Regions from separate parts of the Homo sapiens genome. Here all the other regions are reported to be linked to region 2. Evidence: microRNA targets listed by miRTarBase, many of them from high-throughput screens and not tested one by one. Region 2 holds a microRNA gene; each other region holds the end of a gene's coding sequence.
What was found. Region 2 holds the annotated microRNA hsa-miR-6787-3p (UCUCAGCUGCUGCCCUCUCCAG, at 1,545-1,566, shown strand). A microRNA usually pairs through its seed, bases 2 to 8, with sites in the 3' UTR of a target mRNA and lowers its output. Matches are read on the target gene's strand: a 7mer-m8 pairs with bases 2 to 8, a 7mer-A1 pairs with bases 2 to 7 and ends in A, and an 8mer does both.

Region 1: miRTarBase lists CD84 as a target of hsa-miR-6787-3p. Seed matches in the 3' UTR shown: 7mer-m8 at 2,778-2,784, 7mer-A1 at 1,719-1,725, 8mer at 1,671-1,678 and 8mer at 1,312-1,319.
Region 3: miRTarBase lists RPS15A as a target of hsa-miR-6787-3p. Seed matches in the 3' UTR shown: 7mer-A1 at 1,947-1,953.
Region 4: the mRNA of BAK1 is a reported target of hsa-miR-6787-3p. The part of its 3' UTR that is shown has no 7-base or 8-base seed match.

Annotation. Positions count from the first base shown.
Region 1 is chr1:160,544,384-160,548,420 of GRCh38, forward strand. CD84 (CD84 molecule) reads right to left here. Exons shown (of 7, transcript NM_003874.4): 7 at 1-3,938. The coding sequence ends at 3,873. The region is part of intron 1 of CD84-AS1 (CD84 antisense RNA 1); the gene reads left to right. Among named protein-coding and RNA genes, the nearest start is that of CD84-AS1, 9.3 kb to the left of the region's middle. RefSeq lists an enhancer at 3,888-4,037.
Region 2 is chr17:82,235,163-82,239,220 of GRCh38, forward strand. It overlaps MIR6787 (microRNA 6787), which reads left to right and starts at 1,506; the gene lies at 1,506-1,566. SLC16A3 (solute carrier family 16 member 3) reads left to right here. Exons shown (of 5, transcript NM_004207.4): 2 at 821-1,069; 3 at 1,567-1,710; 4 at 1,976-2,731; 5 at 3,540-4,058. The coding sequence starts at 847. The coding sequence ends at 3,814. It also overlaps a transcript of CSNK1D not described here. RefSeq lists enhancers at 1,083-1,272, 2,097-2,868, 3,639-4,058.
Region 3 is chr16:18,779,825-18,783,882 of GRCh38, forward strand. It overlaps RPS15A (ribosomal protein S15a), which reads right to left. Exons shown (of 5, transcript NM_001019.5): 5 at 1,471-3,278. The coding sequence ends at 3,185. Among named protein-coding and RNA genes, the nearest start is that of RPS15A, 8.5 kb to the right of the region's middle.
Region 4 is chr6:33,571,356-33,574,355 of GRCh38, reverse strand. It overlaps BAK1 (BCL2 antagonist/killer 1), which reads left to right. Exons shown (of 6, transcript NM_001188.4): 5 at 142-322; 6 at 449-1,804. The coding sequence ends at 553. Among named protein-coding and RNA genes, the nearest start is that of BAK1, 7.4 kb to the left of the region's middle. RefSeq lists an enhancer at 2,650-2,939.

The sequences.
Region 1 (4,037 bases), not on the chromosome of region 2:
ATCCACCCACCTTGGCCTCCCAAAATTCTAGGATTACAGGCATGAGCCACTGCGCCTGGCCTTCAAGCTTCATTTTACAATCAGTAGACACTGTCACTAATTATTGAGAAAATTTATACAAATCAAGGGAAATTCAGAGAAAAGTCAAACAGAAGAAAAATAATGAGTCTGGAAGAAAATATAGCCCAGCCATTCCTTCTCTCCAGGCAGGACCTAAGAAGTGCTCTCTGTGGACACGGCCCAAACCAGACAGGCCCCTTCCTGCCTGTGCCCGATTTCCAAGCTGGCCCAACCAGGCTATTCCCTCATAGCCTGTGTAGTTTACAGTGTTCTACAGATTTTTTAAATCATATTTTAAACAAGCTTCACTTTCTTCTTCTAAGAATCATGAGCTGCAACATTCCTCATTTTCTCAGTTGAGTCCCTCAGTAAAGCCCAAGGTGTCTGCAGGCAGGACTGTCCTAACCTACTAGAACTTTCCACCAGAGGGCTCTGTCTCTGAGACTTCCATTTTGATGCACATTTTTAAAAACTGGCACACTTTGGTCTGATACAAGATCCTGTTCCATGATGCTTTGATTTTATAGACCTCTTGGTCACAGTCTAGTTCATCTGGAAAGTTGTGGAGGGGAAAATAAGATCACATGCATTTTACAGAAGGAAAATCTAAGAACTAAGACCTAGAGAGAAGGGTGAACAGATAACGTGTTCATGAATCAGGAGATTCATAGCAGAGAAACTGAGAGGAGAGACAAGAGTAGGGTGTCCTGAGTCCAAAGGCTACCTTCAGAATTCCTGGGCTCTGGCTTCATCCCAGGTTTGCTCTTCTGGAAGACCTAACAGATCTAACCTGCTTCTGATTTTTATTTTTGACAATATGCATAGGGGCATTAGGACACTAGTAATTTTACTTGAGTGAGCATATTAGGAAGAGGAAGAGGGCAAGTTAGAGAATAAAGATGTTTGGGAATGAGTCTTCAACGCATCCACAGAGTGAGGAGTGGTTTTATTTTAGGATAAACGCAGCCTGTTCAGTGTCACTTTGGAATTCCTCCATCCTTTATGACCAAGCCTCTTTCCTCCTTCCTGCACGTCTCTTCTTGGGGTGCTGTCTTTCACCTCCTTACAACTGGTTAGGTGCTTCAGCTGACCTCTTAGTTGGTCTGCCTAACTCTGAAAGTCTTCTCCCTCCAAAGTGCCTTTACACTAGGAACAGCCTCTGATGTATGCATCCTGATATTATTTTATTTTATTTTTATTTTTTGAGACATGGTCTCACTCTGTTGCCCAGCCTGGAGTGCAGTGGCAGGATCTCAGCTCACTGCAACCTCCACCTCCCAGGTTCAAGCAATTCTCCCACCTCAGCCTCCCAAGTAGCTGGGATTACAGGTGTGCACCACCACGCCCAGCTAATTTTTTTGTATTTTAAGTACAGATGGGGTTTTGCCATGCTGGCCAGGATCCTCTCAAATTCCTGACCTCAAGTGATCCGCCCACCTTGGCCTCCCAAAGTGCTGGGATTACAGGCGTGAGCCACCGTGCCCAGCTGCATCCTGATATTTAATGCTTGCCAGAATTTGATTGCACCATGCTTATTGGCTTCTATCTTTTTTTTTTTTTCGAGATGGAGTCTCACTCTGTCTCTCCCAGGCTGGAGTGCAGTGGTGTGATCTCAGCTCACTGCAACCTCCACTTCCTGGGTTCAAGCGATTCTCCTGTCTCAGCCTCCAGAGTAGCTGGGACTACAGATGTGTGCCACCACACCTGGCTAATTTCGTATTTTTAGTAGAGATGGGGTTTCACCATGTTGGCCAGACTAATCTCGAACTCCTGACCTCAGGTGATCCGCCTGCCTTGGCCTCCCAAAGTGTTGGGATTACAGGCGTGAGCCACCACCCCAGCCGGCTTCCGTTTATCTGTAATTCCCACATGTACAATGTAGTGAGGAAAACAAATAATTAGTTATGCTGTAAGGCTGAATGAGATGAGTTTTAGTGATAGAAGGACCAAAGAGGAAAAAACAGCAGTGTGAAAAGATCCCTGATTAATTTTGATTCCTGATACCAGGGAAAGCTTTACAGAAGAGGTACCTTTTGAGGTGGGCATTGAAGGACATGTAAATGGACATGGGGTGAGGGCACACATCTGGCTGGGACACTCTGCCACACATAGGCAAGGGACTGTGAGCATGCATGGTGCATCTGGAGAGGTGCTCTGAATACACCCCACTGATCCAGGCCCCTGCTCATTTTTCATGCTTCTCTCACTTGGAGGCCCTCTGTCTTCCTCATTCTCTATCCAAATTTCATCCATCCTTCAAGGCCCAGCTTCAGCCCTGCCCCCTCATAAGGTATTTTTCTGACTGTTCATGCTATTACTTGCAGCTGCAGTTCAGCGTTAACTGTAGTGTCTGTGCTGGAATTGTCTCCTGAGCTACACAAGAGCAGACATTATGCACATCTTCTACTTTGGGGCCTTGCAGCTCCTAACATAGTGCTAATGGTAGTTGGTGCTAGATGAGTCTATGGATTCATTTACTGGGACTGATGTCTTTATCTGCCTAATTGCAGCCCATTGCTGTCCAGCCTAGGACTATTCATTGGGATTTAGGAGTTAGCCGATTATACTTGCTAACACATAAGGGAAACACTTCCTTAAATGATCATATGAATGTCTTGCTCAGTTGTGAATGATTCTTCCTCATTGAGGAGAGTTAATGCCTGTGTAAGCTGGCTGGTGATCTGTTTGTGGGGCATGCCAGGGTGGCGGCACTCTGCCTCAGCTTAAACTCTAGTTCTCTGAGTCTTTGGAACTGGGATGAACCCAGTTTCATCATCTGCACCATCATCTCCCAAGTTCCTTCTGGAGAATGACTCTGCTTCTTGCAAGGTCTTCTATTTTGATGGTTGGATTATACCCAGTTCCCCAGAAGTGTGAGAAATATAAGCTGGTCAGTTCCTTTTGGAGAGTGGGAATACTGGGCATGGCTGCTTCTTCTGCTGAGGCTGCTTGGAGTGATACAGAAGGAAATCTTGGCCAGAAAGAAAATCCTATAAGGCTTCTGAAGTAGCACTCCAAGAAAAGTGTCCCAGCAGTCTCTAGACCCTGCAGAAAGAACATTTTCCAACACTCCATTTGGAGAGTGTGTCTACATGGCTGAGAGCCACAACTCTGACAGAGACCCACACAGCACTGTCATCTGTGTTTGGACTTACTAAGCCTGTTATGCCCTGCACAAAGATTCCCAGACAAAGGGATGAGTGTGCTTATATGCAGCCCACATTCTGCTCTCCAAGCCATGCACTCGGGGGAAGGGCTGCATCTGCCTCAAGCGAAGGGTACATTTTCCTAATTTGCTCAAGATGCGTGGTGAAGGCCACGCACCAGGGATCTTCACACATACTGACTGTGAGCAGAGCATCTTGGCTGGTGTGCCATGGCCTATTACAGGTGTGCAAAATATTGATCCCCTTCTCCCACAGTTACTGGGCAGGGTTGTTACCTCCAGTCACAAGAGGCCTCTAGTCATATGCAGCTTCCAGAAGTGAGCAATCTTGCTTGTTTATCCCAGTGTGCCATAAAAATATTATTTTCTACATGTGCTATGATGGGAAGAAGTTTGGGAAAACTATACTAGGTAACCTGCTTTGTCATTCATTCAGAAGGGAGTCATTTCAGGAAGGGTATGCATCCATTTGTCCATTTAGGCACAAGCTATGCCCAGCAGAAGGTTTCCTGCTTTGCTTACAGGCTGAGATGTGGCAGTTTGCAATCTCCCAGTAAGAGTTGGGCAGAGAAGATCTGGATCCAGGGAACCTGCCAGTATTGGTGGTTGTAACTCAGTTTCCAGAGGGAGAATTCAGCCCAGCAGCCTAGATCACAATTTCATAGCTTGAAGTCCCAGGAGGTTTACTGTCCTGTGTGCTGGCTTTCCCCATCTGTGCAGGAGAGAAGCGTGAGAAAATGTTAACTGAGAGGTGCTGCTGGGGAACTCCAGTCCTGCAAGTTCCCAGAGGAGTTAAGCAAATGGCACGGGG
Region 2 (4,058 bases):
ATGGGAGCCTCCCTAGCCCCTCCTGATTTCAGGCTGCAGCCTATGGGTCACTCCAGGCACAGGTGGGGTGAGTCAAGATCTCACTGGAGGAGTCACTGAGCAAGAGGGCCGGTGGGAGGCAAGGGGGCATCCAGGGACAAGGGGCCAGCTCTGCCCCCACTTCCCCACCCCACCCACTCTAATACTGCAGCCCCTGTGCTTCCAACTGCCCCCTCCAGCCTGGGGCCCAGCCCCTCACCGCCAGAGACTGCCCGCCTCCTCTTGGGCAAGCTCCTGGTGGGCTCCACTGAAGCCAAAGTGGGCCCTTGGGGGCAGGAGAGCCAGAGCAAGGCACGCTCCACCTAGATTTAGACCGGGAGAGACCTGGAGGATGCCAACCCCAGAGGTCCTGGGGCGAGCTCAGTGCTGGGGACCGGAGGTGCCGTCTGCTGCCAGAATCATGGTGTGCGTGGTCCCTGCCCAGCACGGGTCAGCCAGAGCGAGCCAGGGCAGAAATGACGGCCAGGTCGATGTTCCTGTCGGGGGCTGCTTGTCCCAGGAGGTAATCTGAGTCCTGGCCGAGCCCAAAAAAGCCACTGCCCTTTAGAGCCAGCTGTGAGGGTGCAGGAGGCAGTGCAGAGGGAGTGGGACCCACAGCTGCTAGCCTCCCTCCAAACCCTCCTGCCTCCACCAGACACCAGGTCAGGGGGCCACAAGTGTGGGTGCCGGGCAGCTGCCCCTCAGCTGAGCTGCCGGGCCACCCAGCTCGTGTCCCTCCCCTGCCAGGCTGCAGCTGGGATGGTCACCCGGGCAGCCTGAGTCAGCCTGCTTTCTCTCTCAGGTGAGGCGGAACCAACCCTCCTGGCCATGGGAGGGGCCGTGGTGGACGAGGGCCCCACAGGCGTCAAGGCCCCTGACGGCGGCTGGGGCTGGGCCGTGCTCTTCGGCTGTTTCGTCATCACTGGCTTCTCCTACGCCTTCCCCAAGGCCGTCAGTGTCTTCTTCAAGGAGCTCATACAGGAGTTTGGGATCGGCTACAGCGACACAGCCTGGATCTCCTCCATCCTGCTGGCCATGCTCTACGGGACAGGTGAGGGTGGCCTCACACCGGGCCCCCTGTCCGGGGCTCTGCTGGCGGATCCTGCTGGGCGCGTGTAGCTGGGCTCAGCAACAGGGCCTTCCGCCTGCTCCCCAGGGAACCCTGGAGGGAAGCCCTTGGGGCCAGGATCCTGCTGGGCAGCAACATGCTCTCCACGGGGCCAACCCAGGCAGGGCGCGAAGTCCATCCTGGCCCCTGTCCAAACGGGTCGGCTGTATTTATAGACCGTCTCAGAGGACAGGCTCCTGAGAGCCGTTCCTGAAAAGGTGGCTGTTCCTGAGCTGCAGGGACCCAAGGGGCCCAGCAGGCGGCGCTCACGTGTCATCATGGCCTGCGCTCGGGGAGCCTGCCCACGGGGTGCCCCTGGTGCCCCGCGGGGGGAGGGGTGGTGTGGGAAGGGGAGGCCGGCTCCAGGCTGTGAGCTCAGTCGGCTGGCGGGGGTAGAGCTGGCTGCAGGCCCGGCCCCTCTCAGCTGCTGCCCTCTCCAGGTCCGCTCTGCAGTGTGTGCGTGAACCGCTTTGGCTGCCGGCCCGTCATGCTTGTGGGGGGTCTCTTTGCGTCGCTGGGCATGGTGGCTGCGTCCTTTTGCCGGAGCATCATCCAGGTCTACCTCACCACTGGGGTCATCACGGGTGAGTGGGGCCGGCCGGTGGGCCGCACGTGCCAGGAGGGGCAGGGGCCGTGCACTTCTGCTCCTGGGTCCAGGCCTCTGGAGGACAGCAGGGCGGGTGGCTGCGGGGTGTCCCGGCCCCACCTCGTTGTCCCCCTCTCGAGTGGGTGGGTGGCAGGGGCTCTGCACCCTGGGAGCCTGAGCCTGTGGGAACCTGGGGGCAGAGATGAGGGTCTCGGGCTTTGGGGCAGCCTTGGGGGGCTCTCACCACATTCCCTTTCCTCCAGGGTTGGGTTTGGCACTCAACTTCCAGCCCTCGCTCATCATGCTGAACCGCTACTTCAGCAAGCGGCGCCCCATGGCCAACGGGCTGGCGGCAGCAGGTAGCCCTGTCTTCCTGTGTGCCCTGAGCCCGCTGGGGCAGCTGCTGCAGGACCGCTACGGCTGGCGGGGCGGCTTCCTCATCCTGGGCGGCCTGCTGCTCAACTGCTGCGTGTGTGCCGCACTCATGAGGCCCCTGGTGGTCACGGCCCAGCCGGGCTCGGGGCCGCCGCGACCCTCCCGGCGCCTGCTAGACCTGAGCGTCTTCCGGGACCGCGGCTTTGTGCTTTACGCCGTGGCCGCCTCGGTCATGGTGCTGGGGCTCTTCGTCCCGCCCGTGTTCGTGGTGAGCTACGCCAAGGACCTGGGCGTGCCCGACACCAAGGCCGCCTTCCTGCTCACCATCCTGGGCTTCATTGACATCTTCGCGCGGCCGGCCGCGGGCTTCGTGGCGGGGCTTGGGAAGGTGCGGCCCTACTCCGTCTACCTCTTCAGCTTCTCCATGTTCTTCAACGGCCTCGCGGACCTGGCGGGTTCTACGGCGGGCGACTACGGCGGCCTCGTGGTCTTCTGCATCTTCTTTGGCATCTCCTACGGCATGGTGGGGGCCCTGCAGTTCGAGGTGCTCATGGCCATCGTGGGCACCCACAAGTTCTCCAGTGCCATTGGCCTGGTGCTGCTGATGGAGGCGGTGGCCGTGCTCGTCGGGCCCCCTTCGGGAGGTGAGCGCTGCGCCCCCAGGCAGTTCCCCACACCTGCCCTTCCCGTCAGACGCCCGCTTTGCGAGGGGGGGGACGCGCACCCCTCGGCAGCCACCCGCAGTGTGGGACTCAGAGCTGGAGGGGGTGCACTGTGCTGGACCAACCCTGATTCTGCTGGGGCTAGCGGGTCTCCATTAGGAGTGGGGTGCTCCGTCCGGCACAGTGTGTCCAGACAGGCAGGGTGGCTAGGGGCTGGGCCCGGGGGGGGGCAGCTCCTCCAGGCTCTGCCTGGGCACCACGCGGCAGCTCCAGGCAACCCAACAGCCGGCTTTTGCATTTTGGGGCCTCTCCTTTTTGAAGGATGACTGAGCTAACACGTGAGGGAAATTAAGTTCTGACTGGAGCAGCCTTGCCCAGGCTCCGCCTGCCTGGCGAGGGGGTCCTGGGCTTGGGGAGGGCTCATGTCTTGGAGTCCGCGGTGGCCAGGGCACAGGGCTGGTACTGAACACAGTAGGGCTTCTGGGGCTGCCGACTGGAAGCCTCAGGGGGACTCCGTGGGGACCAGCGTGACTCCTGCCACCAACCGAAACCCAAACTCCACAAAGCCATTGCTATTTTTAGCCTCTTAAGTCTTGGTTCCCCTGAGGAGGAGGGAGGATGCCCCCAGCTGAAACACATGGAGGGGAGAGAACACCTCCCAGCCCCACAAGCTCAGAGGCAGACAGGGTGACCCTTGCGTGCTGAGACACCGAGACACAGGCTTGGGTGGAGCCGTGGGCCCTGGGGGCAGCCCGCATGAGCGGCTGGGACTGACGGGGTCTTCCCGCAGGCAAACTCCTGGATGCGACCCACGTCTACATGTACGTGTTCATCCTGGCGGGGGCCGAGGTGCTCACCTCCTCCCTGATTTTGCTGCTGGGCAACTTCTTCTGCATTAGGAAGAAGCCCAAAGAGCCACAGCCTGAGGTGGCGGCCGCGGAGGAGGAGAAGCTCCACAAGCCTCCTGCAGACTCGGGGGTGGACTTGCGGGAGGTGGAGCATTTCCTGAAGGCTGAGCCTGAGAAAAACGGGGAGGTGGTTCACACCCCGGAAACAAGTGTCTGAGTGGCTGGGCGGGGCCGGCAGGCACAGGGAGGAGGTACAGAAGCCGGCAACGCTTGCTATTTATTTTACAAACTGGACTGGCTCAGGCAGGGCCACGGCTGGGCTCCAGCTGCCGGCCCAGCGGATCGTCGCCCGATCAGTGTTTTGAGGGGGAAGGTGGCGGGGTGGGAACCGTGTCATTCCAGAGTGGATCTGCGGTGAAGCCAAGCCGCAAGGTTACAAGGCATCCTCACCAGGGGCCCCG
Region 3 (4,058 bases), not on the chromosome of region 2:
ACCTTTTTCACCTGAACAACTGGAGCTGGGCCAGGCGCAGTGGCTCACGCCTGTAATTCCAGGACTTTGGGAGGCTGAGGCGGGCAGGTCACCTGAGGACGGGAGTTCAAGACCAGCCTGGCCAACACGGCGAAACCCTGTCTCTACTAAAATACAAAAAAAATTAGCCGGGCGTGGTGATGTGTGCTGGTAGTCCCAGCCACTCAGAAGGCTGGAGCATAAGAATCGCTTGAACTCATGCCACTGCACTCCAGCCTGGGCGACAAAACGGACTCCGTCTCAAAAAAACTGGAGCTGGTAATAGTACCCATGATGCAGGATTGCTCAGATTAAATAATATATGTAACACTCTTAGCTCCACGCCTGGCAAGCACTAACAACCATTATTAGTCTCATTAAGGCTTCCACATTTTTAGGAGAAAGATGAAGTAAAACACATGTTCCTTTTGGAGGAAGATAAATGGAAGTGACATTTAACTTGGCTCTTGGGAACATCTTTGGAGAGAAAAAGGCATTCCAGGTGGGATGAACCGTGAGCGAAGGCTGAAGCGCAGCACGTATGGAGCCCTCTGAGGATTCGGGATTGCCAAGTATGTCTTTGGCAACAACGGATTAGACTGAAAAGCCAAGTGAGATTCAGAGTTTAGGTCTCCCAGAGCTTGCTTTCTCCCTGGCCAGGAGCTCAAAGTGAACTTCCTCGCCTGGGGTGAAGTCATCCTCTCAGACGTTGGTCCAGACCTAGCTTCAAACTCTGCCTTGCCCAGAGACCTGTGTGCTCTTTCACCTGGCACTCCTGACCCTGAGGTGAGACAATAGCCTCTAAGTGAGGACACGTGGCAGGCACGAGTATAGATGTGTTGCTGAATGTAGGGGTCCTTGGCAGTGGTTCCCTGGTCTTTTGAATGACACATTTCTTTCAGCCTCTGGTCAGAGGCTCCACGGGGTCTCTCCATGAAAATGCAGGGGTGTTAAGTTTTGCATGTCTTTTTGGACAGTGCATCATATCCCTGACACCTGCAGCTCCGAGGCTGAGCAGCGGATAGGTGCTGGGTCCCTTTTACTATGAGCCAAAACCACCTAGGTAGGAATGGATGATCCAGATGCTATCACCCTCTCCCCACTCCGGGGTCTCTGCCTAGCAACAGCAGCAGTATGCTGGGAGGATGCTGGGATCACCCCACAGAAATACTTGTCTCTGAGCCAAGACATCCTGCCAGCACGAACCTAAATTGTCTTCAGACCCTCAAACCCTGGGGTCTAGTCCCACACCAAGCAGCCCTGGGTCATGTTATAAAGCCATTTACAGGATCTGAGGAACAAGGGGTAAGGTCATCCGCTTCCTTGCCAACATAAAAGAACACATGTTAAATCCATCAGCCACACCACTCCTTCTTCCCCTGTCACGTTTCTCCCACTCCTGACCACTTCAAAGGACATAGGATCCCCACAAAATGGTGACAACAAATGGAGCCATTTTCATATCCTATTTTATTTTTGAAGTCAGTGTCCAGAAAGAAACCGACGATTCACTCAATCAACATGTAAGCGACTGAGGCATCCCTACACACCAGGTTTGCAGGCTAGGGACCAGAGACACGATGGTTAAACAAGCCAGAGCCCTGTGATCCTAGGGCTTACAATGCTGGCATAAGAAAATCCTTCTGGACTCACTGTCCCCATGCTTGTGACTGTCATGTGCCAAGTGCGCTTTACACAATCTCATTTTTCCCTCAACTTGGGGATAGGTTTTGTATCATTCCCATTACAGATACGGATGCTGAGGTTACTGAGTGGAAGAGGAAACCTGAATTCTGCTGCTGGACCCCAAAACTCATGTTAATTACCCACAGCCTCCCAAACATCAGAGGCCCCAAACATGCCTCCCAACTCACTTCTCACAAATGGGGGCCGTTATCTGCCCCATCTCTAGGGCCGTTCTGTAACATTCTCAGCGACTTCCCATATCTTACAGAGGCAGGCCCTCCTTTCAGGAAGCTGATCCATGCCCCTTAATAAGGTAGCTTCTCTCCCCACTTGGCACACCACCTAGCTAGCCAAGGGCAAAGCAGAGACTAGGGGACAGGCCCCAGCACCGGGTCAGCACCCACTACCTCCTCAGTGATCAACAGTGCCCATTGCACTTCAATGGGCACCTGCAAGTGGCACCAGATTCTCTTGGAACAATTCTTAAGGCAGGGCGTGGTGGTCACACCTGTAATCCCAGCACTTTGGGAGACCAAGGCAGGCAGATCACTTGAGATCAGGAGTTCGAGACCAGCCTGGCCAACATGGTGAAACCCCACCTCTACTAAAAATACAAAAATCAGCCAGACATGGTGGCACACACCTGTAATCCCAGCTACTCAGGAGGCTGAGGCACGAGAACTACTTGAATCTGGGAAGCGGAGGTGCAGTGAGCCAAGATCATGCCACTGCACTCCAGCCTGTGTGACAGAGCGACTTTGTCTTAAAAAAAAAAAAAAAAAAAAAAAAATTCCTAGCAAGTATTTATTACAGCAGTCAGTGACAAAAGCCAGATCTAAAATCCTATCTACAGAATAATCCTAGCCAGGCAAAACAAATTCATCAAAAACTAATAGAAAATACTGAAATATAGGCCAGGTGTAATGGCTCGTGGCTGTAATCCCAGCACTTCGGGAGGCCGAGGTAGGCTGATCACTTGAGGCCCAGAACTCAAGACCAGCCTGGGCAACATGGCGAAACCCTGTCTCTACTAAAATATAAAAATTAGCCGGATGTGGCGACACACACTTGTAATCCCAGTTACTCAGGCGGCTGAGACAGGACAATCACTTGAACCCGGGAGGTGGAGGTTGCAGTGGGCCAAGATCGCGCCACTGCACTCCAGCCTGAGCAATAGAGTCAGACTCTGTCTCCAAAAAAGAAAAAAAAAAAAAAAAACTGAAATACAACTAAAATATTTAGTGTCAAATACCTGGTTTTGGCAGACAGCAGGGGTGACTGTTTCTTAGGCATACTGGTTTCATAAGAACTTTTTCCCTTGGCTGTATTAGTCACTTCAGGGAATCGCATTCACCGATAAACGAAGCAACTGCATGCTGCCGCAGAAGCTGTGGCTACACTGCTGTAAAGGCTCAAAACGACCAAGTGGAAGCACCAGAGTCCATGAGGCATTTTATTTGTAAATATATGTATTACATCCCTAGAAAAAGAATCCCAGGATTTTCCCTCCTGTGTGTTTTCGTCTTGCTTCTTCATGGTCCATGATGCCAGCTGAGGTTGTCAGTACAATGAAACTATGGAGTGGAAAAAGAAAGTGCTGGTAAGTTTAATAGTTCAACATAGTGCCTTCTAGTGCAGAAAAACATCAACACTCATCAGTGGTTAAGGGCGCTTTCCTGTGGGGCACATAGGAACTGACAGTGCCTACATGAGCTGGTGCCTCATGTAGCGTATGAGCCATGACTCCTGCAACCCAAAGAGCCAAATCCAGAGAGCCCAGCCACACAATCACACAGCCCTGACTTCTGCCTACACCATGAAACAAACTGCACTGAAAACAAAGGCTGGGAACTCCTTTAAATTTAAATGTCACTTTCTGCTCTCAGGTAAGGAGACTTGAAAGTATTCGTATAAACTTGAGTTTGAATTGTGTTTCTGCCATGTACTGTATAATAGCTAAACTATTATATGGAGACGTTCATTTGTACAATGAGTGGCTGCTTCATGAGTTACTGTGGGGATCACTGTAACAAGCATATAGTATGCAAATGTGCGGCATTAAAATCAGTATCATAATTACAAAGAGAAATGATTTTGGTGAGAATACCGTACCTGTAATACAGCAACCATGAAGTGAGAATACTTTCAACCAAGGCACCAGACGCATAATTTGGAGGGTATAAATTCTTAACCACAAAGATACACATTTACTGTGTCAGCTCATAAAGTGCTTTACCAAAATTAAATCAGGTGATAAACAGAGGAACTATTACCACTTTTACGGATGAAGAAATCAAGGCTGTGACTTGCCCAAGATCTCATGGCTTTAAAGCAGAAAAACAAGGGTTTGAACT
Region 4 (3,000 bases), not on the chromosome of region 2:
GCCAGGTTGGGGCAGCCTCTGCGGCCTTAATTCACAGCTAAGCTATTTAGCTTCCAGCTGGGAGAGGGGTGGGAGAGGCCAGGCAGGCTGAAGGGCTTCCTGGGGGCTCTCCACCAATGCTATGGGATGCTCTGCCCACAGCCTGTTTGAGAGTGGCATCAATTGGGGCCGTGTGGTGGCTCTTCTGGGCTTCGGCTACCGTCTGGCCCTACACGTCTACCAGCATGGCCTGACTGGCTTCCTAGGCCAGGTGACCCGCTTCGTGGTCGACTTCATGCTGCATCACTGCATTGCCCGGTGGATTGCACAGAGGGGTGGCTGGGTGAGTATCCAAGGACTGCAATGTCCTCCCTGCTGTTGGGGCTGCCCCTCTCCCAGGCCCCACCCCTTCCTCGGGTTCCTATATCTTCTGCTAGCCTCTCTGTGACCACCTTGTTTCTCCCGGCAGGTGGCAGCCCTGAACTTGGGCAATGGTCCCATCCTGAACGTGCTGGTGGTTCTGGGTGTGGTTCTGTTGGGCCAGTTTGTGGTACGAAGATTCTTCAAATCATGACTCCCAAGGGTGCCCTTTGGGGTCCCGGTTCAGACCCCTGCCTGGACTTAAGCGAAGTCTTTGCCTTCTCTGTTCCCTTGCAGGGGTCCCCCCTCAAGAGTACAGAAGCTTTAGCAAGTGTGCACTCCAGCTTCGGAGGGCCCCTGCGTGGGGGCCAGTCAGGCTGCAGAGGCACCTCAACATTGCATGGTGCTAGTGGGCCCTCTCTCTGGGCCCAGGGGCTGTGGCCGTCTCCTCCCTCAGCTCTCTGGGACCTCCTTAGCCCTGTCTGCTAGGCGCTGGGGAGACTGATAACTTGGGGAGGCAAGAGACTGGGAGCCACTTCTCCCCAGAAAGTGTTTAACGGTTTTAGCTTTTTATAATACCCTTGTGAGAGCCCATTCCCACCATTCTACCTGAGGCCAGGACGTCTGGGGTGTGGGGATTGGTGGGTCTATGTTCCCCAGGATTCAGCTATTCTGGAAGATCAGCACCCTAAGAGATGGGACTAGGACCTGAGCCTGGTCCTGGCCGTCCCTAAGCATGTGTCCCAGGAGCAGGACCTACTAGGAGAGGGGGGCCAAGGTCCTGCTCAACTCTACCCCTGCTCCCATTCCTCCCTCCGGCCATACTGCCTTTGCAGTTGGACTCTCAGGGATTCTGGGCTTGGGGTGTGGGGTGGGGTGGAGTCGCAGACCAGAGCTGTCTGAACTCACGTGTCAGAAGCCTCCAAGCCTGCCTCCCAAGGTCCTCTCAGTTCTCTCCCTTCCTCTCTCCTTATAGACACTTGCTCCCAACCCATTCACTACAGGTGAAGGCTCTCACCCCCATCCCTGGGGGCCTTGGGTGAGTGGCCTGCTAAGGCTCCTCCTTGCCCAGACTACAGGGCTTAGGACTTGGTTTGTTATATCAGGGAAAAGGAGTAGGGAGTTCATCTGGAGGGTTCTAAGTGGGAGAAGGACTATCAACACCACTAGGAATCCCAGAGGTGGGATCCTCCCTCATGGCTCTGGCACAGTGTAATCCAGGGGTGTAGATGGGGGAACTGTGAATACTTGAACTCTGTTCCCCCACCCTCCATGCTCCTCACCTGTCTAGGTCTCCTCAGGGTGGGGGGTGACAGTGCCTTCTCTATTGGGCACAGCCTAGGGTCTTGGGGGTCAGGGGGGAGAAGTTCTTGATTCAGCCAAATGCAGGGAGGGGAGGCAGATGGAGCCCATAGGCCACCCCCTATCCTCTGAGTGTTTGGAAATAAACTGTGCAATCCCCTCACCCTGACTTAGTTTTTGTATTCTCTGCTACCCCTCTTTCCATCAGGCCAGACTGTGGGAACCTGGGCACGCCTGGCATACATCTGGCTTATTACTGAATAAAACCTCACACTAGGCCTCTAGAATCCCATAGAGGCCTGAGTATGGTTCTGCAGCCCCCACTCCGATGGAAGGCGTTCGCCCCTCCCCATGAACTTCTCTCATCTCGTTGGGTTTCATGCAGTTTCCACCCTTTAGGAAGTCTGGGAGGTCCTTTAGCTACAGAGCTGGTGGAGCAGCTGCACATATCTGAGGACCCCCACAGGCTACCTCTGACCTGGGCTGAATTCTTCTCCCACCCTGGGGCTACCACCCACGCTGGTCCAAAAGGCCCTTCTCCCCCACATTTAGCTCTGCCTGGGACACAATGTCCCAGCTCCCCCTTCCTGATGTCTCCACAGTCAGCACACACGCAGGGCTTTCATTCTAGTTTTATGCTGCTTGGGAGTCCCTATGGGTACCCAGCCAGGGGTGATAAAAATAACAAGCATGGGGGCGTTTAAATGTTCCAAAATCTACAGTCTTTCCAGTCCTGGGCACCCTGGTCTGTGTTTCTGACGCCCTTCCAAAAGGGTCACATGCAAGTCCAAGAGAACTCGTGAGTTTCACCTTCACCCTCCTGGGGTGGGCTTGCCAAGCCCCTTTTCCCTCCACAAGGTCTTCAGAGTCTAGTACAGACGCGATCTTGGAAAAGGGAAAAGGCGGCGCTGCAGGCAGTGGTGGCTGGAAGGTGGTTGCTACAAGGCACCCCGCAGTGTACAGGAAAAGCTCACAGACAACATTTATAGAACACATACTGTGTGCCAGGCTTTATGCTGAGAGTTCATCATCTGCCCAAATAATAGGTAGGAGACGGGGGTGGGGGTACTCAAACTACTATTTACAGATAAGGAAACGGGTGCTTTCTCAGAGTCACCCAAGGAGTGAGGACTTGCCACCAGGAAACTGGCTCGAGTTTTACGTGGAGGCCGGAGAGCAATGTGGGGCTCGCGAGCACAGGTTTAAGAGGCCCAGAGTGCGGGGTCGCCTCCCTCCCGGAGCGATGCCATAGAGGTTAGAAGTGGGCGGCTGCCCGAGTCCAAGATGGCCGCCGCCGCGAGCACGCAAGCGTGCCCTTCCTTGGGCGGGGCCTTTGGGGCGCACCCACTCCAGCCTCTG